Homo sapiens: one gene and its partners. The protein of the gene in region 2 purifies or fractionates together with the protein of the main gene of each other region. This does not show direct contact. Each region holds a gene or a part of one and is shown on either strand. Other genes may lie near its edges. The genes, in order: RBBP7, ING1, HDAC1, RBP1, SIN3A, SINHCAF and RBBP4.

Evidence for each region.
Region 1: the proteins of ING1 (region 2) and RBBP7 purify together in Homo sapiens (affinity purification with mass spectrometry; 7 studies listed by BioGRID and IntAct, with this or other methods). This does not show direct contact.
Region 3: the proteins of ING1 (region 2) and HDAC1 purify together in Homo sapiens (affinity purification with mass spectrometry; 9 studies listed by BioGRID and IntAct, with this or other methods). This does not show direct contact.
Region 4: the proteins of ING1 (region 2) and RBP1 purify together in Homo sapiens (affinity purification with mass spectrometry, with the first as the bait; 2 studies listed by BioGRID). This does not show direct contact.
Region 5: the proteins of ING1 (region 2) and SIN3A purify together in Homo sapiens (affinity purification with western blotting; 5 studies listed by BioGRID and IntAct, with this or other methods). This does not show direct contact.
Region 6: the proteins of ING1 (region 2) and SINHCAF purify together in Homo sapiens (affinity purification with mass spectrometry; 3 studies listed by BioGRID and IntAct, with this or other methods). This does not show direct contact.
Region 7: the proteins of ING1 (region 2) and RBBP4 purify together in Homo sapiens (affinity purification with mass spectrometry; 6 studies listed by BioGRID and IntAct, with this or other methods). This does not show direct contact.

Annotation. Positions count from the first base shown.
Region 1 is NC_000023.11:16,856,863-16,860,362, forward strand, and holds part of RBBP7 (histone-binding protein RBBP7), read right to left. Parts: intron 1,988-3,500; coding exon 1,814-1,987; intron 848-1,813; coding exon 732-847; intron 1-731. UniProt on the Homo sapiens protein: Core histone-binding subunit that may target chromatin remodeling factors, histone acetyltransferases and histone deacetylases to their histone substrates in a manner that is regulated by nucleosomal DNA.
Region 2 is NC_000013.11:110,720,200-110,723,699, forward strand, and holds the end of ING1 (inhibitor of growth protein 1), read left to right. Parts: 3' UTR 1-3,140; downstream 3,141-3,500. UniProt on the Homo sapiens protein: Cooperates with p53/TP53 in the negative regulatory pathway of cell growth by modulating p53-dependent transcriptional activation. Implicated as a tumor suppressor gene.
Region 3 is NC_000001.11:32,298,583-32,302,082, reverse strand, and holds part of HDAC1 (histone deacetylase 1), read right to left. Parts: intron 1-3,500. UniProt on the Homo sapiens protein: Histone deacetylase that catalyzes the deacetylation of lysine residues on the N-terminal part of the core histones (H2A, H2B, H3 and H4).
Region 4 is NC_000003.12:139,536,943-139,540,975, forward strand, and holds the start of RBP1 (retinol-binding protein 1), read right to left. Parts: upstream 2,801-4,033; 5' UTR 2,777-2,800; coding exon 2,518-2,776; intron 2,018-2,517; coding exon 1,839-2,017; intron 1-1,838. UniProt on the Homo sapiens protein: Cytoplasmic retinol-binding protein. Accepts retinol from the transport protein STRA6, and thereby contributes to retinol uptake, storage and retinoid homeostasis.
Region 5 is NC_000015.10:75,406,691-75,410,190, forward strand, and holds part of SIN3A (paired amphipathic helix protein Sin3a), read right to left. Parts: coding exon 3,444-3,500; intron 3,302-3,443; coding exon 3,146-3,301; intron 455-3,145; coding exon 365-454; intron 1-364. UniProt on the Homo sapiens protein: Acts as a transcriptional repressor. Corepressor for REST. Interacts with MXI1 to repress MYC responsive genes and antagonize MYC oncogenic activities. Also interacts with MXD1-MAX heterodimers to repress transcription by tethering SIN3A to DNA.
Region 6 is NC_000012.12:31,284,651-31,288,150, forward strand, and holds part of SINHCAF (SIN3-HDAC complex-associated factor), read right to left. Parts: intron 3,135-3,500; coding exon 2,984-3,134; intron 1-2,983. UniProt on the Homo sapiens protein: Subunit of the Sin3 deacetylase complex (Sin3/HDAC), this subunit is important for the repression of genes encoding components of the TGF-beta signaling pathway.
Region 7 is NC_000001.11:32,668,208-32,671,707, reverse strand, and holds part of RBBP4 (histone-binding protein RBBP4), read right to left. Parts: intron 3,484-3,500; coding exon 3,310-3,483; intron 2,970-3,309; coding exon 2,854-2,969; intron 2,737-2,853; coding exon 2,576-2,736; intron 2,478-2,575; coding exon 2,351-2,477; intron 2,223-2,350; coding exon 2,145-2,222; intron 1-2,144. UniProt on the Homo sapiens protein: Core histone-binding subunit that may target chromatin assembly factors, chromatin remodeling factors and histone deacetylases to their histone substrates in a manner that is regulated by nucleosomal DNA.

The DNA of each region.
Region 1 (3,500 bases), on a different chromosome or scaffold from region 2:
CTTGTAACATAATTCAAAATAGCCCCAAAGTAGAAAGAACTCAAATGGTTCATCAACTGACAAATAAGCTAACTGTGGTATATCCATACAGTGGAATATTGTTCATCCATAAAAAGGAATGGAACATAAGTAATGTTACTTGAAAACATTATGCTAAGTGAAAGAAGCCAAACAGAAAAGGCCATATATGAGATTCCATTTACATGAAATACCAAGAACAGATAACTCTATAGAGACAGAAAATAAATTAGTGCTTACCAGGAGCTGGGGGAAGGCAGGGAATGAGTGGGGAGTCACTGCTTAATGGGTATGGAATTTCTCTTTCAGAGAGCGAATGAAAACATTCTAGAATTAGTGGCAATAGTTGTGCACCTTTGTGAATATACTAAAACCCACTGAACTGTACACTTAAAAAATACTTTATATTAATCAGGTCCCACAAACACTCTACAGTTTCCATTTTAAGGGCCTGGAGGGTCCTCTTTTAAATAATGGGAGGCCTTTTGCCTATGCTCCCTCCATTCTAAGGCTACTTCAAAAGAGCTCTGTGGAATCCGAAGACTCATACAGGGCAGTATGAAAACCATCTCTCTAAAGTCCTGGGGGAATGTTACCACAATAATCAGCAGTATTATCTTAGAAAACCTTTCATCTATATAGTACTCCTTCAGCACAGCTGTGACACGTCAGCTCTCACTATATGAACAAATTACAAAGAATACGTTTCTCACATGGTCATCAGATGCACTTAGGAGATGTCCACTCAAATTTGAATTCCAGGAGAGACCATAGCCTTCCTTCTGGTGACCTCTTAATCTGAGATCAGGATTACATTCTCCACTTGGGTCTAAGAAAAGATGAAAAACATTAAGTTATTCTCTGTTTATCAGAACTGGTGAGAATAAATTCTCACTCCTTCATTGAGTGAACCATTACAGCAACTGCACACGAACGAGATCTGGTCTTTAATACCCAATGCAAATTGAGCCTCATGACCATTAGATGATTGGTTTCTTTGGAAAACCTAATACTATCCCCAACACAAAAATATTAAAAACTATAGCTATCCTACAAATTTGGGCAGTGGTGACCGTATCCCCGCAACCCCCCAATTTTTTAGAAATATTTCTAACACAACAGGTCTGGTTGCTCAGTCCTTGCATGCCTCTAGGGTAGCCTGCAACCATAAATGACCCTTGGCCAACCCCTGGGAATGTGACCCTCAGAAAGTTCTTCACGTCACTGACTGATAAAGTTTTGTAAGCCCAGAGCAGTGGGGTATGCCATAGGGACCTGTCAAGACTTGTAGGATTGTTTAGCAAGATTCACAATGTATTTGGCTTCACTATTGGGGTCCTCAATTTTGTTACCATGGCTGGTCATAGAACAGGATGTGCCCACGCCAACAGACCTCCACAAAAATCCCAGATTCTGAAACTCAAATGGGCTGCCCTGGGTAGAGACATTTAGCACATGTTCCTATGGTTTGCTGCTAGAGACAAAACATGTCCCACGTGGCCCTGGATGGGAAGGACTCAGACGCCTGTAGCTAACCCCTCTGGACTTCCCCTGATGTGTATCTTTTTCTTCCTACTCTTGCTCTGGATTCTTTGCTGTAATAAACTTTAGCTGTTAGTATAAGCTGCTTTTAGGTAGTTCTGGCAAATCCCTGAACTTGAGGATGGTTATGGGACCCCCAAAGCAATTTTTAAACCTTTAAATATTATAAAGTATGCTACTTTGACCTTAAAAACATTACCAGTTTGAATCAAGAAAACTGCTCAAGTAATGACCTAACTCTATTATTACATACCTGGTTTAGCAGGGTGTTTTGTATAGTCAAAAACCAACACATCAGAAGATGGTGTTTTTGTAGCAATGATGTGAGGATTCTGCGGCATGTAACGAGCACGGTTTACTTCTCCTTCGTGATTGATTTTAATTTCACATTCAATTTTTCCTGTTACAGAACCAAAGCCACCAAATTCTAATGTGAGGAGAAAGAAACACACACACACACACTCAGGATTAAAATTCACAAATCACTTAGTTCAATCAACCTAACAGATTTTGACCTGGCAGAATACAACACAAACTGACAAGACAAAGACAGAAACATGCATAGAGAAAACCCAAAAATGTGGGTTCATTTGCCACATCAATTTATTCTTAAAGCCCATTTGCACTGGAAAATATTGGTAGCTGCCTTATGCAACTTAATTCAGTTCCACCTTGGATCTAAAACAACTGTCCTCTTTCAGTTATGAAGATGATATAGTTATTCACTGAAATTTCAAGTAACCATATAATAAGCAGACCAATAGCTTTTTAGTTCAAATACAACTCACTGTAAGTACTGCACTGAATTAGCATCTTATTTTAGGATTCATCAAAACAGGAAAGGTTTTAACCCTCCACAGTATGAACACCCTTTGAGTCTGAAGTCAGAAGCATCCTCAAATCAATCAGAAACCCACGCTAACCCCTACCTGTCCCTAAACACACATACATTGGCCCTGCCAGCATACTTGGTTTAACTGCTAGTGCAGTGCCAAGGTTAACCTCTCCGCCCATCTGGTGTGTGAATAAGACTATAGTATTAAATAATCATGAAAAAGGCCTTGTAAAGTAACAAAGTCATATAAAAAGTACGGTAACTTCCAAGAAGTAGCAACATGTTAGCAGAAAGAATACAAGTAGAGAACATCTAAGCAAATACAGCAAACAAGAACATTCTTTTTTGTGCTCATAGATAAAAAAACCTGAATTAGTTGCTGACGCTTAAAAAGATAGGAGGGTTCACATTACAATTGTGTTATTCTTCCTGACCTATATTGCCTTTTCTTTGCACATTCCATTTTAGCTCACCCTGTGTCTCAGGTCAGGGACAACTAACACAAATGCCTACTGGAGCCAGACAGGTAAGAAGTAAAATAGACCGGGGCCTGGAGCAACCACCAAAAGGAGCAAACCATTTCTCAGTTCCAGGCAGCTCCTTCTATGTGGAATGCTTAATGAACACTCGCTTCCATGTCTTAATATCAGTATCTAGCCGTTCCTCTCTGAAGCAAACATAGCTTACTATTTCAGTGTGGTTGAAAAAACCGTATCTCAAATCCACGATTACTCCAAAGCTCCTCTACCCACTACTCTCATGTGACCACATGCAAAAGGATCCTTTTTCCTCGTAGCACCTTCTGTTCCATGGTGTCAATGGAAGAAATGTGCCTCGGCATGCTAAGACCCCTCCTGATCCAATCGTCTCCTCCCTCCTGAGACTGCTCCAAATCTGCTCCACTTTGACCTTCAACATCCCATTCCATGGACTCCAGTGGCTCTAACCCTTCTGCTACAAAGATACTCAAGTTTCCTGATTCCTTTAGCTAAAACAACCTGAAGAGCTCTCCTTTAAAAAAAAAAGGGGGGGGGGCGGGGCTTCCAAGTAGGATTTACTTTGAACACAGAGTTTTGTTTTCTCAAACTTAAAATTTTGAAAAGTC
Region 2 (3,500 bases):
CGGGAGGAGGGGGACTAAACTCAACCTAACACATTAAATGTGGAAGGAAAATATTTCATTTAGCTTTTTTATTTTAATACAAGTAATATTATTACTTTATGAACAATTTTTTTTAATTGGCCATGTCGCCAAAAATACAGCCTATAGTAAATGTGTTTCTTGCTGCCATGATGTATATCCATATAACAATTCAGTAACAAAGGTTTAAAGTTTGAAGATTATTTTTTAAAAAGGTAAATGGTTAAATTTTACATGACAGATATTTTATCTATTGGCCTGTTCCCCAAATGGCCATTTTAAAATGCTTGGGTACACTTCTCTTAAGTGGTCTAGTCAAGGAACCTCAAGTCATGCTTTTGCTATCACCAATCATAGTGTACCCATCTTTAATTTATATCAGGTGTATAAATGTACATTTCCAAATGAACTTGCACTTGTTATATTATAATTGGAAGTGCAGTCAGCAGATGCTGTTGTGAAGCTAATGTCACAATTATGTGCAAAGGTGTGCTTCCTGCTGTATGTGAGCTGTAAAAATGTTACGTGAAGAAATAAATGAAACTTGGCCAGTTTGTTCCTCTAGTAGTATATTTAATTTTGACATAAGTAACTTTTAAAATTTGTCTTAAAAATTTATACACCAGCAATTTAGACAAAGCCTTAAGCAAATTTTGTATTATTGTTCTCACTTATTATTAATAATGAAGTAGAAGTTACTTAATTGCCAGCAAATAAATACGTGTCAAAAAAGAATCTGTATTCAGACCCTGGGTCAGGAAATTACTGCCCACTTGTCAAGTTCAGCCCACCATCTGTTTGAAGATTATATGAAGTTTAAATTCTAGTGTCCATAAATAAAGTTTCAGCGGAACACAGCCGTGCTTATGTGCGTATGTATTGTCTGACTGCTTTTGCAAAACGGCAGAGTTCAATAGTTGCACCTGAAACCATTTGACTTGACAAGCCAAAACTATTTTCTGGCCCTCTGCAGAAAGGGTTTGCTGACCTCTGATTTAGACTAGCATCTAACATTGATTTGCCCACATATTGAAAGGGTCAGTGGAGTTTTCATTTATTATTTTTTATTTTTTTGAGATTGAGTTCCAGGCTGGAGTGCAATAGCGCAATCTTGGCTCACCGCAACCTCCGCCTCCCAGGTTCAAGCGATTGTCCTGCCTCAGCCTCCCCAGTAGCTAGGATTACAGGCATGCACCACCACGCCTGGCTAATTTTGTATTTTCAGTAGAGACGCGGTTTCTCCATGTTGGTCATGGCTGGTCTCGCACTCCCGACCTCAGGTGATCCACCTGCCTCAGCCTTCCAAAGTGCTGGGATTACAGGTGTGAGCCACCGTGCCCGGCTGGAGTTTTCATTTTTTTTTTTTTTTTTTTTTCTGAGATGGAGTCTCACTCTGTCTCCAGGCTAGAGTGCAGTGGCCCAGTCTTGGCTCACTGCAACCTCTGCCTCTCGGGTTCAAGCGATTCTCTTGCCTCAGCCTCCCGAGTAGCTGGGACTACAGGTGCGTGCCACCATGCCCAGCTAATTTTTGTATTTTTAGTAGAGATGGGTTTTCACCATGTTGGCCAGTATGGTCTCGAGCTCTTGACCATGATCCGCCCACCTCGGCCTCCCACAGTGCTGGGATTACAGGCGTGAGCCACCGTGCGCTGAGTGATACGTGGTTCCCTTTAACTTCGCACATGGTAAAATCAGTTTCTTTCCATGATCTGTTTCACAGTCTCTGTGAAGCTACCTACCACAAAGAAGTAGTGAGTGATGACTTTCTAGAATCTAAGTATATGGCATGTATTTATTATAAGTAAAACATTAAGTTTGCTGATTGTTTACTTGTGATAAACAATTATTGTGAACTTTATTTGTGCTGGACATAAGTGTCTGTTTTACAGTGAAATTCCATTATAGAGGGTTACTTGGTAGAGAAATGCAAATTGTAGTTGGTCATATACTAAAATTTGAACTTTTTACATATCAATACTTACAAATAGGTGTTTATTTTCCCACAAAACTCCAGAACATTTAAGAGTCTCGGGTGTTTAAATTTGATGAGATTTACCCAAACAAATAGTGAACAAAAGGTTTATGAAAATAAGTTATGAAACTAAAATACTTAATAAACATCCAGTGACAATAAAAATAGCTTGAGTCTTTGCTTATATAAAATTTCATGCTAATTTTTCACTTCTATATTAATTGGAGGTAATAATGCAAATTAAGTTATAGAAATGAAGATTCAATGAAATGCAGTTGCTCATCCTGGATTTCTTCATATTCAGTTTTGGTGTAGACAACTGGTGAAGAGAGATGGCTCAGAGGCCAAGCCTTGCAATCTAGGAGCCCAGCCCTGTCCTTTAAGGGCTTGATCTTGAATAAATTGCTTAACAGTTGGTCTATAGTTCTACACTTTTAAAGTATGTTTCACAGAGGGTGGTTCCAATAAATAAATGCACTGGCATATTCAAATGTTGGATAATTTTTCTCTAGCTTTCTTCAAGTTTCTCATAAGGACAGGTGGGTAGCCACTTATTCTTTAAAAAAAAATAGATACAATACAGAGTCGTGTTGGACTGGCAGTCTTAAATCACTCTTGTTATTTCCAGTGGACATTAAAAAAAAATCACAGATAAGTACTTAAAACACTCAAGATTTGGGATTTAGATCATGATTAGATACAATAGAAAGATCCTGGAATCCCGACATGAGGACAAAAATGGTACTGAATTCTTTTTGAAAAATAGATTACTGAAAAGCGATCTAATATAGAACAGTTGCTTTTACTTAGATGTTCAATGCATATTTGTTGTATAATAACCAAGTTATTACAGTTCAGATAAAGGGTCCAAAGTGTTTTCGTTATGATATAATACTTTCTATTGTAAACTGGACTAAAGAAACGTTGTATGTTCAAGGAAGTGTTGAGCAGCCATGGTGTTCCTGGGACAGGCTCCCCAGGTGCTGAGAGAGGTGCTGCAGGAGTCACAGACCTGCAGGCACGCACTTGCCAGTGACTGGGACGTTGGCTGGTGGTTCTCTTTTGGTGTGATTAGAGCTATGTGAGTTGTCTCAATACTTGAGACTGTCGGTGGTTGCCAATGCTGAATAAAGCATTTATCAAAGTAAAAGCCATTTCCTCTTATTATATATTATTTTAGAAAGAGTACACATTTAGTTGTGATATCCTTTTGTAGTTCACATTTATGTAGTGTTCCAGGTAATAAGTTACCTGGAACTTACCTGAACACTTCAATATTTCATTAAAGTATTAAATCTTTTTCTTAGGCAAAATGATTAAGAGCTTCATCTGTGCACTTCTAAAGACATGATGTGCTCTCGAGGACATCTAGCTTTTTTCCTTCTATCTAATGTAATTTATGGCTCTAGAATCCTTGGCATATATGGAGAGAGGTTTTATTGATACTGTCTGCCTCCCTCTCCATTTTAGCGTGTAGAATGTGCCTCTTTCATCGCAGAGTCCAGGCAGT
Region 3 (3,500 bases), on a different chromosome or scaffold from region 2:
CCTTCTAATTGGTCCCTCTACCTTCAATTCACACTACCTGCCACACTGTCACCAGAGTTATTTTCCTAATCCACAATTCTGATAACATCACTCCTTCGCTCAAAAAATCCTTATGGCTCCCCATCCCCTACAGGATAAAGAGTAAAGAATAACTTTAATAGAGATAGGCATGGTGGCATGAGCCTGTAATCCCAGTTACTCTGGAGGCTGAGGCAGGAAAATCACTTGAGCCCAGGAGTTCAAGACCAGGCTGGGTCTCAACATTTAATAATAATAACTTCAGAAGACTGGCATTCAAGGACTTTCTTTTTTTTGAGACAAGTCTCGATCTGTTGCCCAAGCTGGAGTGCAGTGGTGCAATCTCAGCTCACTGCAACCTTCGCCTCCTGGGTTCAAACAATTCTCCTGCCTCAGCCTCTCAAGTAGCTGGCATCACAGGCATGTGCTACCATGCCTGGCTAATTTTTGTATTTTTAGTAGAGAAGGGGTTTCACCTTGTTGGTCAGGCTGGTCTCAAACTCCTAACCTCAGTTGATCCACTCACCTCGGCCTCCCAAAGTGCCGGGATTACAGGTGTGAGCCACCGCGCCTGGCCAGCATTCAAGGACTTTCTTTTACTTTATTTATTTATTTTTTTGAGACAGAGTCTCGCTGTGTTGCCCAGGCTGGAGTGCAGTGGCGCGATCTCAGCTCACTGCAAGCTCCGCCTCCAGGGTTCACGCCATTCTCCTGCCTCAGCCTCCCGAGTAGCTGGGACTACAGGCGCCTGCCACCATGCCCAGCTAATTTTTTGTATTTTTAGTACAGACGGGGTTTCATTGTGTTAGCCAGGATGGTCTTGATCTCCTGACCTTGTGATCTGCCCGCCTCGGCCTCCCAAAGTGCTGGGATTACAGGCATGAGCCACCGCGCCCGGCCAAGGACTTTCTTAATCTGCCTTTCCAGCTTCATCCAAGGACTTTCTTAACCTGCCTTTCCAGCTTCATCTCCTGCTACCACCCTTTCCCACAACACACACACACTCACTCTCTCTCTCTCTTTGCTCTAGACTGGAGTAGGCAAACTATGGCCCTTGGGACAAATACAACTAGTTGCCTGTTTTGGTAAATAAAATTTTATTGGAACACAGCCATGCCCATCCGTTTACAGTTCCTCTATGGCTGTTTTCACACTACAGTGGCAGAGCTGAGCAGTTTAGTTGCCACAGACACCCAAGCATATGGCAAAATAAAGCCTAAAATATTTACTATCTGGCCCTATATAGAAAAAGTTTGCCAACCTGTGCTCCAGACACACCAGATTATGATCAGTATCCTGAACATGACATTCACCTTCACACCACAGTATCCTCTGTGCAGACTATTCCTTTGACCTGAAATGTCCTCCTTTCTTTGATGATGCTCATACTACAAAGCCCACCTCAAGCTCCAAACCCTTTCTTGATCAAAATAAATGGTCTTTTCCTCTACATGCAATTTGTATACAGCACTTCATTAGTTTTCTTTTCTTTTTTTTTTTATTTCTTGAGACGGAGTCTCACTCTGTCGCCTAGGCTGGAGTGCAATGGTACTATCTCGGCGGCTCAGTGCAACCTCTGCCTCCCAGGTTCAAGCAGTTCTCCTGCCTCAGCCTCCTAAATTGCTGGGATTACAGGTGCGTGCCACCAAATCCAGCTAATTTTCATATTTAGTAGAGGTGGGGTTTCACTATGTTGGCCTGGCTGGTCTGGAACTCCTCACCTCAAGTGATATGCCCACCTCAGCCTCCCAAAGTGCTAGGATTGTTTTATATCTGAATTATTTACATGACTATATCCACAAGACTGGGTACCCCTTGAAGGCAAGGATTAATATGCCTTGTATATCACAGAGGCTCAATAAAGATTCAATGAATTGAATTGAGACTCAGAGAAGTTAAGTGCCTGCTCAAGATCACACAGCTAATGACTGATCTGGAGTCCACTCTTCGGACTCCAAATCCAATATGCTAAAAGCTACATTGGATTTTCCTTTTTTCTTTTTTTTTGAGACAGAGTCTCGCTCTGTCGCCCAGGCTGGAGTGCAGTGGTGCGATCTCGGCTCACTGCAAGCTCCGCCTCCAGGGTTCACGCCATTCTCCTGCCTCAGCCTCCCAAGCAGCTGGGACTACAGATGCCTGCCATCAAGCCCGGCTAATTTTTTTTGTACTTTTAGTAAAGACGGGGTTTCACCGTGTTAACCAGGATGGTCTTGATCTCCTGACCTCGTGATCCGTCCACCTCGGCCTCCCAAAGTGCTGGGATTACAGGTGTGAGCCACCGTGCCAGGCCCTACATTGGGCTTCTCAGGTACCTACTTCAGTTTGCACTTAATCTAGAGGGCTCTATAAGTCTACCTGATAGAAAATTCCTTGAACAATGTTGCAAAATCAAGTGAACTACACACCCAAAGATCTCTCCTTAGAGATTTATTAGGATGAGGCAGAGCTCTAGGCACCCAGTGAAAAAAAGGCATGAGCCTTGATCCCTAGCAACTCCCTTGCCTATCAAGCCTAGATCCAGCCAAGGCTCAGACCTGGGGGACTAAGATATCTTATCCAGAAGGTTAAGGGAGTATCTGAGGTGAGGGTAGTGAGGGTGGGGCTCTGAGACAGCATCCTTTTCTTTTTATGTTTTTTTTTGTTTGATGTTTTTGTTTGTTTGTTTGTAGAGATGGCATCTTGCTTTGTTGCCCAGGCTGGTTTCAAACTCCTGATCAGCCTTCTAAAGTGCTGGGATTACAGATGTGAGCCTCCAACAGTGCAGGCCAACCATCCTTTTCTTAACAGTTTTTAATTAGTTTGCCAACCCGTGCTGTGTGTATTCCTATACACATTGACAAATGCTATGACAGGGGAGCACACAGCATGAGGGACACTGTCCACTTCCTTAGAATTCCACCCTGGATCCTCTTCTATATAACTTCTTGGGTGACTGCATCCTTTATGATTAAATTTACTGTAATTAAAATAAAGATATATCTCTATATCTTAATCAGGTTGCTGAGAGACTTTAAAAGAAATGGTCCTTTTTATTTAGGTACTACTTAATTTTAATTTTTATTTTTGGAGACAGAGTCTCACTCTGTCACCCAGGCTGGAGTGCAGTGGTGCGATCTCAGGCTCACTGCAACCTCTGCCTCCCAGGTTCAAACAATTCTCCTGCCTCAGCCTCCTGAGTAGCTGGGATTACAGACATGTGCCACCACGCCTGGCTAAGTTTTGTATTTTTAGTAGAGTCAGGGTTTCACCATGTTGCCCAGGCTTGTCTTGAACTCCTGACCTCAAGTGATCCGCCCACCTCGGCCTCTCAAAGTGCTGGGATTACAGACGTGAGCCATGGCGCCAGCCATACTTTAAACTCTTAAAGAGCTTTCCCATCATTGTTCTCATAATAGGAACTCCTATCATTTTGATTTTATAGGAGAGAAATCTGAAATGTAAGGTGACTTGCCTGATATTACAAAGCTTCTCAATGGCAGAGC
Region 4 (4,033 bases), on a different chromosome or scaffold from region 2:
TTATCTGTAAAATGAGGCTTGAAAGGGTGTTGTGAAGATTAAGTCAGCTAATGTAACGTTTGAATAGCATCTGGCATGACAGTAAGCACTTGATGAGTACTGCATTTGCTAGTATTACTAGGTGATCAATAAATGTTTCATGTGTTAATGGATGAAGAAAGGAAGGAAAGAGTGAAGATAATTAGTACAAGCCAGCACATGCCAGATTTGTGGTGACCCAAAATAAAGGTTCGATGTGATCTGTGAGTTCCACAATAGTGAGTGGGGGTAAGGATTATTCTTAAGGAGCAAAGTTCCATGCAGTGTGCCGGGGAGCAGGTCTTGGGCAGTAATGAGAAAGGCAGATGCCATCTGAAGGTCTCCTTTCCTATTGTGAGTCTTTCCTGCAGATTAAGAGTCCTTGAGATTTTTAAAGGCACAACCTGACATTTCTCTGCAACAATGGTGTTTTCTCCCATTAGTGGTCCTTCCAAGGCCACTCCCTGCTGACTACCCCCTCTTTCCCATCATTCCAAACAGCAGACTCAGATACCAATCCTGACTGCCTTCAGATGAATAGACAAGGTGGGGGGATGAGTCATCCAGGCTCCAGATGCCTATTCCCAGACATGGGCATCCCTTCAACTACAATCCTAACAGACCTCAGCTATCTTGTTTCTGCACAGACTACCAGCAGAGAAGCTGGCAGAAAGCAGGACTGTGGGCTTCAACATCAGAAGGCCCAGGGCTCAAGTCTCATCTCTTACAAGTCTCTTCCTCTGTCTGAGCCTCAGTCACTGCATAACATGGGGTTACTTATCCCTCCCTCACTGTGCTGTGCTGTAAGATGACTAGCACAGTGCTGGACACACAGCAGACCAGCGGTAAAGACCCTTGGTAAATGGTGGGAGGTGGTGGGTGAGGACCCCATCAATAAGCAAGGTGGCTCCTGGGATGAACATAAGCCACTTCTGAACCCAAGACTATAAAGGGAGAACAAGAGTACCTTGACCTCCCAGCAACCAGATAATGTTGATGGAGGCCTGGGGCTGGCCTTCCGGCATCTGCTGTGGCAGTACTAATTGGGATGTCCTGGGTCAGGAGTTTCCCACCCTTGTGGAAGGGAGCTCTTGGCCCTCCCTCTTCCCCCACTGCTGTTTCCTCTGGTCTGGGCTGGAGGGGCCCTGACTTACTGAATAGGTGTCAGCTGCAAAGTTCAAAGAATGCTCAGTAGGCATTGGATGACAGGGTGGGGCAGGGGATGGCCAGGAGCCAAATCCCAGCTCTGGGGCAAGGATGGGCAGATCAGGGGGCTTCCAGCAGAGATCAAGGGGCCCCCAGCTTCCTGGAGTGACTTCACACTAAGTCATACTGAAAGTTTACACTTCAAAGGGGTTACCTGTGTTTCTTTTTTCTTTCCTCCTTTCTTTTCTTTTACCCTCCACCAGCCCAGTCAGCCAGAGAACGGCATCAACAGACATGCTTTGAACTCCAGACCCTCCCTAGCTGTGCTACTCTGGACATGTTACTTCATCTCTTTGAGACTGTTTCTTCATCTGTAAAATGGGCATATTCATATCTCCCTCAAAGGCTGTGTGAGGCTTAGGTGAAGTCATGTGCATAAAGCACCGGGCAGAGTGCCTGAACGCAGTGGAGACACAGCACATGGCAGCCTTCATAACCATCACCTTCCAGTGTAGATAGAGCAGGATGCTTCATGAGTTGGTGCTGCCCACCATGGGGGCTGAGAGTGGGAAGAGTTTTCAGTCCCTCAGGCCCTTGCCCCCTCTCGGATGAACTAGCCCAGCCCTTGGTCAGGCCCCCTGGGCAGGAGACACCAGGTGGACGCGAATCCTCACCATGCACTTGCGGTCATCTATGCCTGTCAGATCCTCCTCAAACTCCTTCCCAACCTGGAAGTCCATGATGTAGTTCCTAAAAGTGCTCAGCGTGCGGATGATCATATGGTCACCGTCCTGCACGATCTCTTTGTCTGGCTTCAGCAAGTTGGCGATTTTGCGCAAGGCCACATTGACGTCTGCGGTGGGGGTTGAACGGGGAGAGAGAGAGCGCCAGAGAGTTGGCAGGGAAACTCAGAGAACCGTTCCCAAGGTAGCGGGGCCCCAGGAGCCCTCTCCGCCCGCGAACACTGTTAGGGTTCCCGCTGGCTTTGCGTTGTCTCTGCGCACAGCCTGCCTGTGCCTCCCCTGCCGCCCCCAACAAAGTTTTCTGCTCTTATGTTAACCGTTTAAAAACAAAAAGTAGCAAACCAAGCCCCAGATTTACTAATGAAATTACCCACCTCCAGGGCCAACGAGCAGACATTTGCCACCGGTTAACCTAACAACCCCGAATTCTCCAATCTGCAGCCTGGGGGCTGCCCTGGGAGCGGTGGCCGAGGACGCCCTTTCTGGCGTCCGGGGGCACCGGACCGCGGCTCGCCGGGATGGAGGCAGGCAGGCAGCGTCTCGGGAGGGCTCTAGGGAGCGGCCCGGAGCTGCTCGGCGGGGCGCCCAGGGCGCAGCGGGCAGCGCTTACCGAGGGCGCGCAGGTACTCCTCGAAATTCTCGTTGACCAACATCTTCCAGTACCCAGTGAAGTCGACTGGCATTTCGGGGAGTGACTGGAGCCAGTTGGCCACAAGCGGGCGGGACGGCTGGAGACTGCCGGGACAGCGGCTGCCGGTGCTACGCGGGTGGTGGGCGGCCCGGAAATGAGCGCCCTCCGGGGACAGGGGGCTCTGCGGGGCGGCGACAGCTGGATTCCCAGCGCGCACAAAGCCTGCGGGAGGATCCATTGTAGCGGTCGCTCCTCCCCGCTTAGCGAGGGCGGGCGCAGGGGCGGGGGATGTCGAAGGGTCAGGTTTGTCCAGGCCGCGCCACCTTCGTTTCAGACGTTCAGTTCGTTTCCCCTACAAAGGAAGAGGAGACCGGAGACGGGACGTTTGCTTTGTTGGCCGAACTCTTCGGCTGCTGGGGATTTCCTTCAAACGCCATTAACTTCTCACACTCAGCAGCCACTCGGGAGTTGGGAAACAATCTCCTGGGGTTTGTGCTGGCGTGATTAAGGAAAGAGGCCACTTACAGGCCTTTGTCTAAAGCCTCGCGCCGGTGGTGGCTGGGGTCAGGAAAGCTGGGAGGTTCAACTACGGGCGAGAAAATTGGGGCACTTTCCACGTCTCTCCCGAAAATAAAAGAAAGGATGCCGGGCACGGCGGCTCACGCCTGTAATCCCAGCACTTTGGGAGGCCGAGGCGGGCGGATCACCTGAGGTCAGGAATTCGACACCAGCCTGGGCAACACGGTAAAACCTCGTCTCTACTAAAAATACAAAAAATTAGCCGGGCGTGGTCGCGGGCGCCTGTAGTCCCAACTACTCGGGAGGCTGAGGCAGGAGAATAGCTTGAACCCGGGAGGAGGAGGTTGTAGTGAGCCGAGATCGTGCCACTACACTCCAGCCTGGGCGACAGAGTGAGACTCTGGCTCAATAAATAAATAAATAAATAAGTAAAATAGTTGATGTTATTTGAAGTGCATGTGGCTAAAAAAGCCTTCTGGGTGATTCTGATGCACAATCAACTTTGAGATCCACTGCTGCTTTATGCAAATGTAAGCAATATACTGTTTATTAATGTTTCCTCCCGTTTCACCTAATGGCAGCACTGTACTCCACGGTGTTCTGGACTTTGCTTTATTCACTTAATATATTCTGGAGACTTTTCCATAGCTGTACATAGAAAGTATCCCCATTATTTTACGGAGTATTCCATTGCTTATCCAGCTTGTCCCCTGATGGACAAACTATATTGTTTCTGATCTTTCACTATTAAAAGCAGTACTGCAATGAAAATCTTTGATCACATCTCCTTTGTCACCTGCGTGGGTATGTCATTGTGGTTTAACTGCATTTGCCACCAAGTAGATGACATAATCACATGGGCTGACTTTTTGACCCTCTTTTTGACTACCTCTTTTAAATCGCTTTTTGCACAAATCACAGCCTAAGTGACAGCAGATAACATTTTCTTCCCCTCTAGCACCACCTTCCCCAGGGT
Region 5 (3,500 bases), on a different chromosome or scaffold from region 2:
AAAAAAGATTACAAGTCATCTTAAATCCTCAAAAATTGGTACAGGCACTGGTACTGCCTGCCACACAGACCTGGATATCTACAATGGGAGCTCCAAACATCTTTCAAGAGAAACATAATACATTTTCTAAAAATCTGTCTTCTGCCCCAAACTGCTTCATAAAACCAAAGCAAACAATGCTACCATTTTTCTAGCTATGCTAATAGTACTAGCAGACTCAAAGGACTCACAACTGGGAAACTATGTTAAAAAACAGAAAGTCCTAATTAGCCTGACACCTTTAAAACGAAACCTTCCAGGGGGATAAGATGATTTTCTTTTGGCATTAACAGGCACTATCAAATCTAACTCATCCATTACTCACCTTATCAAAAAATAACGATTCTGTTCCACCACCATGTTTGCTGGCATCTGCCATAGAAGAATCCTTCAGATTGAGCAGTTTGGGTTTCTTCTGCAAAAGAAAGATACAAACATGTGAGATTCAACGAGTGGTTTTCTCTGAATTTTATTTTTGTCTGTATTCAATGGTTTCATCACTGAAACCACTGCTGATTAATAATTTGAAACAAATGAGAGAACTCTAACCAACTCACTCCATACCCTCTAAGATTTCAACTCATATTTTCTATTTCAGTTTGCCTATTAAGTTTCTTTCTACAACAGAGGTTCAAAGATCATTCTACCCCCAAAATATTTTCTCCAGAAATGATCATGACATTACTGTGACAAACTTTTAGAATATCCTTACTTTTTCTAGGGGCCCAAAGTAACTTCATGTAGAATCTAATGCCACTGTTTTGTTCTCCTACCAGCTGAGGGAGAAAAGGCTGTTTGTAAAAAGAGCTCACAAATTGACAGAAATCAATCTTTAACCCTGAATAATATTTCAATTAAAAATTTACTTAAAAAGCATAATTTGCTGGGCATGGTGACTCATGCCTGTAATCCCAGCACTTTGGGAGGCCAAGGTGGGCAGATCATGAGGTCAAGAGATTGAGACCATCCTGGCCAACATGGTGAAACCCCGTCTCTACTAAAAATACAAAAAAATTAGCTGGGCGTGGTAGTGTGCGCCTATGGTCCCAGCTACTCAGGAGGCTGAGACAGAAGAATCGCTTGAACCCAGGAGGTGGAGGCTGCAGTGAGCCGAGATCACGCCACTGCACTCCAGCCTGGGCAACAGAGTGAGACTCCATCTCAAAAAAAAAAAAAAAAAAAAAAAAAAAAAGGCACGCCAGCAATATCCACTCAGACTAATTTAATATTGTTCTTCTAAAGGGAACCAACAGGCCATGATATAATCCTGTCAGGCAAGAAGTTACTTTTAAAATCCACCACTTACTCTCTATGAAGAAATGCACAAACTTTGTGAGAAGTAGCACATTTACCTTGGCTATCTCAGAGTATACTTTCTTAAGAGCCGCAGCCTCTGCTTACACTGCCTATGGAGAAAGTAGGCGGAGAATTTTAAGCCCCCACTATATTCTTGCCACCTGTAGGTAATCAAGAGTGGGCGGACGTAAATCCAAGCATGGAGTGTATCTACTGAGCTGATTCTTGCTACCCATATAACTAATTCTCTTTATTGAAATGAAGAAATAGAAACCATTATTATGTTCAACTTGATTTCAAAAGATTTCAAAAGAAGAAACCATGACAAACACTAATGAAAAGGATACTTCAAAAGTGTCAGTAACACCTAGTACGTCAGACCTTGTAGTCAGTCAATCACTATTCATCAGCCACCTCTTACTATTAGAAATTCCCAAACTTTTGTCATTATTTAATTCTGCAGACATATCTGTCTCTTCTATATTACATACTGCTTTGAAATTCACTGAAGAATTAAACATTCAATACATACAACTAGCCCTCTCCCTATCATAGCTGTGTTACATCAAAGAAGGGAGCAAGCTAAGTTTTCTGCAGGCAGACCATCAGTGTTAACTATAACAAAAAACATCATGTAATGGATTACTAAGAGGAGTTTAAGACTTCCCTCTGCTACAGCCCAAAGGTCCTGCCTTGGAGATTAAGATGATACACATAAGATCTGGTAACCCAACAAAGAACTTTGAGCAGGACAGGGTTCTAGACCAGAGATCTCAAAAAACACATGCACTCTACTCACAAGAGGACCTCAGAGACCACTTATTTCTGAAATAATTCTCAAGCTCAAGAATGTTCTTTCTTAACACAAGGCAGATTTAAAGCATCAAAGAAGAAGGGGCCAGGCGCGGTGGCTCACGCCTGTAATTCCAGCACTTTGGGAGGCCGAGGTGGGTGGATCACCTGAGGTCAGGAGTTCAAGACCAGCCTGGCCAACATGGCGAAACCCCATCTCTACTAAAAATGCAAAAATTAGCTGGGCGTGGTGGCACACGCCTGTAGTCCCAGTTACTCAGGAGGCTGCGGCAGGATAATTGCTTGAACCCGGGAGGCAGAGGTTGTAGTGAGCTGAGATCACACCACTGCACTCCAGCCTGGGCGACAGAGCAAGACTCCATCTCAAAAAAAAAAGAAGGGAAAAAAATTTCAAGTATTGGAAATTCTTAGTAGCAACCAAAACATTAAAGAAATGACAGCTCATTGCAAAGGAGAGATAATAAAGAACTCAGAAAAGTACAGTAATCCAAGCAATCAATGTTATTCTAATACTCTTTTGCAAAGCCAGATAAACTCTGCACTGAGTTTCTGTGACACAATACTAACTTCCTCCAAATATCTAGGACCCAACCGTTAACACACTTAAGAACACATGACTGCCGGGCACAGGTAATCCCAGCACTTTGGGAGGCCGAGGCGGGCAGATCATGAGGTCAGGAGATCGAGACCATCCTGGCTAACACGGTGAAACCCCGTCTCCACTAAAAAAAAAAAAAAATCAGCCCGGTATGGTGGCATGCGCCTGTAGTCCCAGCTACTCGGGAGGGCGAGACAGGAGAATCGCTTGAACCCGGGAGGCAGAGGTTGCAGTGAGCCGAGATCGTGCCACTGCACTCCAGCTTGGGCGACAGAGCGAGACTCGGTCTCAAAAAAACAAAAAAAAACAACAACAACAAAACACATGACCACCTCTAGAGTACCTCTCCATTAGAAATACTTGTGAGTGTCAAAATGAGCAGCTGCTGCCCATTCTCACCTTAACTGGAGGGGTGGTTCCTGTAGGATGTCTGCGGATCTGGCAGCCATTCTGGCTGGGCCTCTGCGGCTTGTTGTTCAGTTGGGGCTTCTTGACAGTGCCTCCATGATCATTTCTCACAGAATCAACCTTCTCAGCAGTTGTTTTGCTTAAAAGCTGATTAAGACACATGAATGAGATTAATGCTCTTATCAAAGCAAACAAATATCATCTAGGAAAAGTCCCCTTCTGAGCACAGTTTTCCAACTCATCTAAGATAATAATAGTAAATAGTGTAATTCTTATTAAAAAAACATACCACGGAGCTGTTGGCATCTGGTAGGAATTGTCCAAACTCTGACAACAAATCTTCCTG
Region 6 (3,500 bases), on a different chromosome or scaffold from region 2:
TTCCACATGAATAACCATGTTGTTCTTAATATCCTAGCAACACTTATTGAACAGACCATTTTCGCCCACCAATCACCCCCACATCATGTATCACATAACAAGTGCTATATACATATGTGGCCTTGTTTCCAGGCTCTCTATACTATTCCATTGGTTTATTTTTCTATTCCTAGTCCCAAAACACATTAATTACCATGGCTTCATAATATGTCTTGATTTCTGTTAGGGCAAGTTTATCCACATCTTTCTTTTTCTTCTGAAGATGCCTATTTTGGGCCCTTTGCTTTTCTATATAAATTATAAATTAGCTTGTAAAGTTCCATAAATATGTTGGGATTTTGACTGCAATTACCCTGAATCTACAAAGTGATCATCTCCCTAACAGTCAGTTTAATAATATCTATGAATGTGCTATACCTCTCAATTTATTTAGGTGTCTTTAAATGTTATTCAACGGCCGGGCGCAGTGGTTCATGCCTGTAATCCCAGCACTTTGGGAGGCCAAGGCGAGCAGATCACCTGAGGTCAGGAGTTCACTATCAGCCTGGCCAGCATGGTGAAACCCAATCTCTACTAAAAATACAAAAATTAGCAGGGTGTGGTGGTGCATGCCTGTAATCCCAGCTACTCCGGAGGCTGAGACAGGAAAATCGCTTGAACCCAGGAGGCGGAGGTTGCAGTGAGCCAAGATCACACCACTGCACTCCAGCCTAAGTGACAGAGTGAGTCTCTCTCTCTCAACATAGACATATATTTATATATATACATACACACACACACACACACACACACACACACACACACATAAATAAATGTTATTCGACAATATTGTATGATTTTTACATAACTCCTCCAAAGGGCTTTTGATATTTTACTACATTATTTTATATTTCCTAACACTATGATAAAATGTATCATTCTAATGCCAAACTGCCTAGATTTAAATCCTGCTCTACTTACTATGTAACCTTAAACAAAGTACTTCCTCTTTGTACCTGTGTTTTCACATAATGCTTCACAGAATTGTCATAAAGACTAAATAAGGCCAGGTGCAGTAACTCACACCTGTAATCCCAGCACTTTGGGAGGTCAAGGCAGGCAGATCACTTGAAGCTAGAAGTTCAAGACCAGCCTGGCCAATATGGCGAAACCCCATCTCTACTAAAATACAAAAATTAGCCAGGCATGGTGGTGCGTGCCTGTAGACCCAGCTATTTGGGCGGCTGAGGTGGGAGAATTGCCTGAGCCCAGGAGGCGGACATTGCAGTGAGCCAAGATAACACCACTGCACTCCAGTCTGGGCTACAGAGTGAAACTCTGTCTCAAAAAAAAAAAAAAAAAGATTAAATAAATGCAAACAAAGTGGTTTAAAGTACTTTAAAGTACTTACACTATGCACTAGGCACTGTTCTAAAGTGTTTACTACTACACTACTACCAATATTGTATTGGTTAGAACCTTCTGTATAATGCTGAATAGAAATGGTGATAGTCAACACTCTTGATTTGTTCCTGATCATAGAGAAAATGCTTTCATTTTATCACAATTATGTATTATGTACTTTTGTCCTTTTTGTAAGATACCTGTTGTCTAAGTAAAAAAGTTTCCTTCTATTCCTATTTTGCTAAAACTTTTTTTTTTTTAAACCTTAAAGGAATGTTCAAATTTGTCAAACTCCTTCTTTGCACCACTAAGAAGACAACACCTTCCTTTAGAAACTATCAATGTGGGCTGGGCACGGTGGCTCACGCCTATAATCCCAACACTTTGGGAGGCTGAGGCAGGTGGATCACCTAAGGTCAGGAGTTCGAGACCAGCCTGACCAACATGGTGAAACCCCTTTTCTACTAAAAATACAAAAATTTAGCCAGGTGTGGTGGCCATGCACCTGTAATCCCAGCTACTCGGGAGGCTAAGGCAGGAGAATCACTGAACCCGGGAGGCAGAGGCTGCAGTGAGCAGAGATCGAGCCATTGCACTATAGCTTGGCAACAAGAGCAAAACTCCGTCTCAAAAAAAAAAAAAAAAAAGAAACTGTCAATGTGGTAAATTATATTAGTTGATCGTCTCATGTTCAAACCAATCTTACATACCTAGAATAACCCTAGTGGCTGATGATATATTTGTTTTGGTATCAAACTTATATCAGCCTTAAAAATGCTTGGGGCCTATGCCCTATTTTATCCATAGTCTGGAAAAGCCAGTGCATAGGCTCCAATCATCTGTTCCTGGATGTTTAGTACAACTTGCCTATTGTGGTTTGTTTGTTTGTTTGTTTGTTTTTTTAAATAGAGTCTTGCTTTATCACCAGGCTGGAGTGCAATGGTGCAAAAATAGCTTACTGCAAACCTAACCTCCTAGGCTCAAACAATCCCCTCACCTTGGCCTCTCAAAATGCTAGGATTACAGGTGTGAGCCATCACACCTGGCCTGAATCAATTTATTATGAGATTATCTCCGTTTTTCACTTTTTCTTGAGACAGCTTTAGCAACATGTCTTTTTTCTAGTACTGTACCTGCTTCACCTGTATGTTCAAATTTATTGGCATCAAGTTGTCTATAATATCCTATTATTTTTTAAATGTCTGCTTTATCTATACCTAAGTCTCTTTTCTCTTTCCTAAAATTGCTTATGTGTATTATCTCCTTTTCCTGATCCACTTTATCTCTAGTATATTTTTGGTCACGTCTTTTTGAAGGACCAACTCTTAGTTTTACTGATTCTCTCCACTGCATATTGTCTTTCTACTCCACTTATCTAGCAATAGGCAATGTAGGTACCTTGATGTGATTTTTATTTTAAATAAATTTTAATAGGAAGAACATACAAAAATCCCACTTCCCTGCTCAATTCCTGCTTAATCCACTGCAATCGTGTGTTACCAACTGTTTGCCAAATGCCATTTAATTGCTAAGGAAGTAGAAAAATACTGCCCATAATTAAGATGGTTTGCTGGTTAGAGAGATACTTTGTTTCTTTTACCTTTTCCAGTAAGTGAGATCTAAAAAGGAAAAAACTGGTGTTCTGTTAGAACCAGAAGCCATCTCTGTATCTGAGCCGTCATCTGACTGGTTACTGTAACAAGGAGATTGAGCTGGGGAGGCACTTGAGGTGGTACTGTGAGCATCAGAATCTGCAATAAAGATTAAGAGAAAAAATAAAATTTTCAATTTCATTACATGTAATTGCAACTAAACCTCAGCATAAGACACTGTGAAAGAGTTGGTAAAAAAGAAAAAGTAAAAAATAATTCATTTTCTATGCACTACTGATATTTGAAGATATTCAGACTAACGTGTTTTTTAAAGAAGTGAAGAAGATGGAATAGACATACTTCCTATTCCTCCTGCTTATACAACTAAAATCCCTGGATATTATATATAAAACAAACCTGAGACTCCAAAAGGTGATGATCATCTAGGGAGCTCAAGACCCAAGGCAAGCCATGGTGGTAGGTTCCTTAGTTTTTCTGGATTTTCCTTTTGCCTCATAATCCCCA
Region 7 (3,500 bases), on a different chromosome or scaffold from region 2:
TCAAAAAAAAAAAGAGATGAGGCCTCGCTATATTGCTTCTAGGCTGGACTTGAACTCTTGGGCTCAAGGGATCTCGCTGCCTCAACCTCCTGCGTAGCTGGAGGTGTGTGCCATGTGCCCAGCATCATTTTATCTTTGGAAACATCACATCTTGTCTGTTCTTGTGGGGTGATCTCAGTTCACTGCAATCTCCTCCTCCCATGTTCAAGCGATTCTCCTGCCTCAGCCTCTTAAGTAGCTGGGATTACAGGCGTGCACCACCATGCCTGGCTAATTTTTGTATTTTTATTAGAGACGAGGTTTCACCATGTTGGTCAGGGTGGTCTCAAACTCCTGACCTCATGATCCACCCGCCTCGGCCTCCCAAAGCGCTGAGATTACAGGCATGGGCCATCGTGCCCGGCCTACATCTTGTCTATTCTTATTTGCTAATTCTGGCCTCTACCCAAATGCAATCCAATTCTGACCTAAGAACTAAAGTACAGATGACATATACAATAACTATGTCCCCAAGTATTTACTATGAGTTCTGTATTACATATAAGTCTGATTAAAAATGACTCCATGCAATAATTTTATTAAAGAGTCAGACAAAAAATTTACTACTATATATCCAACAATCAGAGTTTGCTACCAAATATGGTAAAAGTGCTACCTAGCCTTAAGGTACAGAAAAAGAGGGCATTAGTGACCAGCAATTAAGGAAGAATTTGGATTCTGTCCAGGCAAGAATACCGTCACAAGCAAAGCAAAGAGATAGGGTAAGGATAAAATGTTCACCAAGGTGGGCTGAAAAGTAGAAAATAAGAGACTAAGTATGTAGGAGTATGGCTCACCTAAAGCCCAGTTCAGACGCCACCTTCACACACCAGAATTAATCTTTACCACCCTCAGGTTCATAACACTTGACAAAATCTTTTATTATAGTAATTTCTAAACAAGCCCTCCCTCACTATAAAATTTTGGGCTCGGCTGGGCGTGGTGGCTTACGCCTGTAATCCCAGCACTTTGGGAGGCTGAGGCAGGAGAATCCCTTTAGCCTGGGAAGTGGAGGTTGCAGTGAGCCGAGATTGCACCATTGCACTCCAGCCTGGCCAACAAGAGCAAAATGCCGTCTCAAAAAAATTAATTAAAAAAAAATAAAAAAATTGGGGGCTCCTTGATAGCAAAGGCTACATAACGTAATCTTTCATAGTGCCGTAGCAACAAGCTTTGAACATAGTGCAGTGATTATTTCTTTTTTTAATTTTTGCAATCAGACCTGGGCGATAACCTTGAGCAGGATATAAACTCCCACATGCTTAGCGTTCCAATAATGGAACACTAGGCATAAATGGGTTTAAACTGATGAGGTAGAAAATATGGAGCCAGAGGTTGAGGCTTGGGTTGAGAAATCAACACATGTGGCAAGTAATGAAGGATGAAGAATATATTGGAAGAAGGGAAGAGATCACTAAGTGTCAGAAACAAGGCTGAAAAAATAATCAGGCACTAGTTTTCCTTTCTTTGTAAATTTTTATTAAAAAATAGACAGGGTTGGCCAGGCTGGTCTCAAACTCCTGGCCTCAAGCAATCCACCCATCTCAGCCTCCTAAAGTGCTGGGATTACAGGCATAAGCTACCATACCTGGCCTAGTTTTCTTAATATCTGAAGAATGTAAGTGGTCAATAACCAGTTTGAGAAAGTATAGAAATAACAAAGAAAAAACAATTCCCACAGAAAGTAGCATAGGCATATAGATTTCTATTTTTAGCAACGGCATAAAGCACATGTGTGCCCACTCATACATCCAGGTTTTTCTTTTTTCTTTTTTTTTGAGACGGACTCTCGTTCTGTCGCCCAGGCTAGAGTGCAGTGGCACAATCTCGGCTCACTGCAACCTCTGCCTCCCGGGTTTCATGCCATTCTCCTGCCTCAGCCTCCCGAGTAGCTGGGACTACGGGCATCCGCCACCATGCCCGGCTAATTTTTTATATTTTTAGTAGAGACAGGGTTTCACCGTGTTAGCCAGGATGGTCTCGATCTCCTGACCTTGTGATCCGCCCGCTTCAGCCTCCCAAAGTGCTGGGATTACAGGCGTGAGCGACCGCGCCCAGCAGGTTTTTCTTAAAACAAACAAAATAGTAGCATTAGTTTCTCTTACCTGGAATATTTCATCCTTATGTGACTCAAAGGAATGCAACTTAAGTTTCAGATTTCTCAGATCCCACAAGGCAACAGTCTATGTACAAAAAGAAAAGCAAGAGTAATCAATTTTTTAAGAAAAAAAAAATACTGTAAGTAAAATATCTCTGCAATTCAAAAAAACCTAGAGAAATTATGTTTTCTATTAAAATAAACGAAACTGACCTTGTCAGCTGATCCTGTGGCAAGAATGAACTCACTATAAGGATTGAAAGAAAGGCAGTTCACTTCAGCAGTGTGAGCATCAACTGAGTGGCTTGGTTTGGAAGTATTGTTTGAACGAGTATCCCAACTTCAGTGAAAAAAAAACAAAGGAAAAAAACCTTGAAATGGTGACTAAACATAAAACTTAGACAAGATATTTAGAAACTCTGAATGGATTCTACTCACATCATAAGTTTCTGATCATCAGCAACTGACCCAAACAGAGACTCATGGAGTAGATGCCAGGAAACATCTTCTACTACTGCCGTATGCCCTGTAAAGATGGTCTTCGCATCTACCACTTTTCCCTCCTTTGGAACGGCACTGATGTCCCACAGGCAGATGGTCTTAAATGTAAAATTAACCATTATATAAAAGGAAGATTCTCACCTCCCCACACACCCCAAAAAAGAAACCAACTGGTAACTAGCCCAGATTTGCTTCAAAATGGGAAGGATACACACATGGTCATCTGAAGCACTAAGTAAGTGCCCACTGAGATTTGGGTTCCAAGAAAGCCCATAGCCTTCCTTCTGATGTCCACGGAGACGCAAGTCTGGGTTGCACTCTCCAGAAGGATCTGCAAAGTGACAGACACATCAAGACTACCCAGTCCACTGGCTCTCTGGGCCTACTGAGCATAATGGAATTTTGGTCAAGATGTCTAAAGCTCTTAACATTTATAAATGATATAGGAACCGTTATGATCAAATAGATAATGCTTAAACAGCACCAGTATTTTGTTCTATGTAAAAAAGCATTATTTTTTCATGGAGGCAAAATGAAGAAAAATATACACATATCAATACAAATCACAAGATGTTAAATTACACAGAGTAACATGCAATTAAACTCACAGTGAGTGGAACCATGTATTTCTATAGTGACTCATTTGTATTTGAATAGAAAAGGGCACATACCTGGTTTAGAAGGATGTTTTGTATAGTCAAAAACAAGAACATCACTGGAAGGAGTCTTTGTTGCGATGATACAAGGGTTCTGGGGCATATAACGGGCCCTGTTTACTTCTCCTTCATGGTTGATCTTGATTTCTATTTCAATTTTTCCACTAACTGAACCAAAACCTCCAAATTCTGTGAATAAATTAATT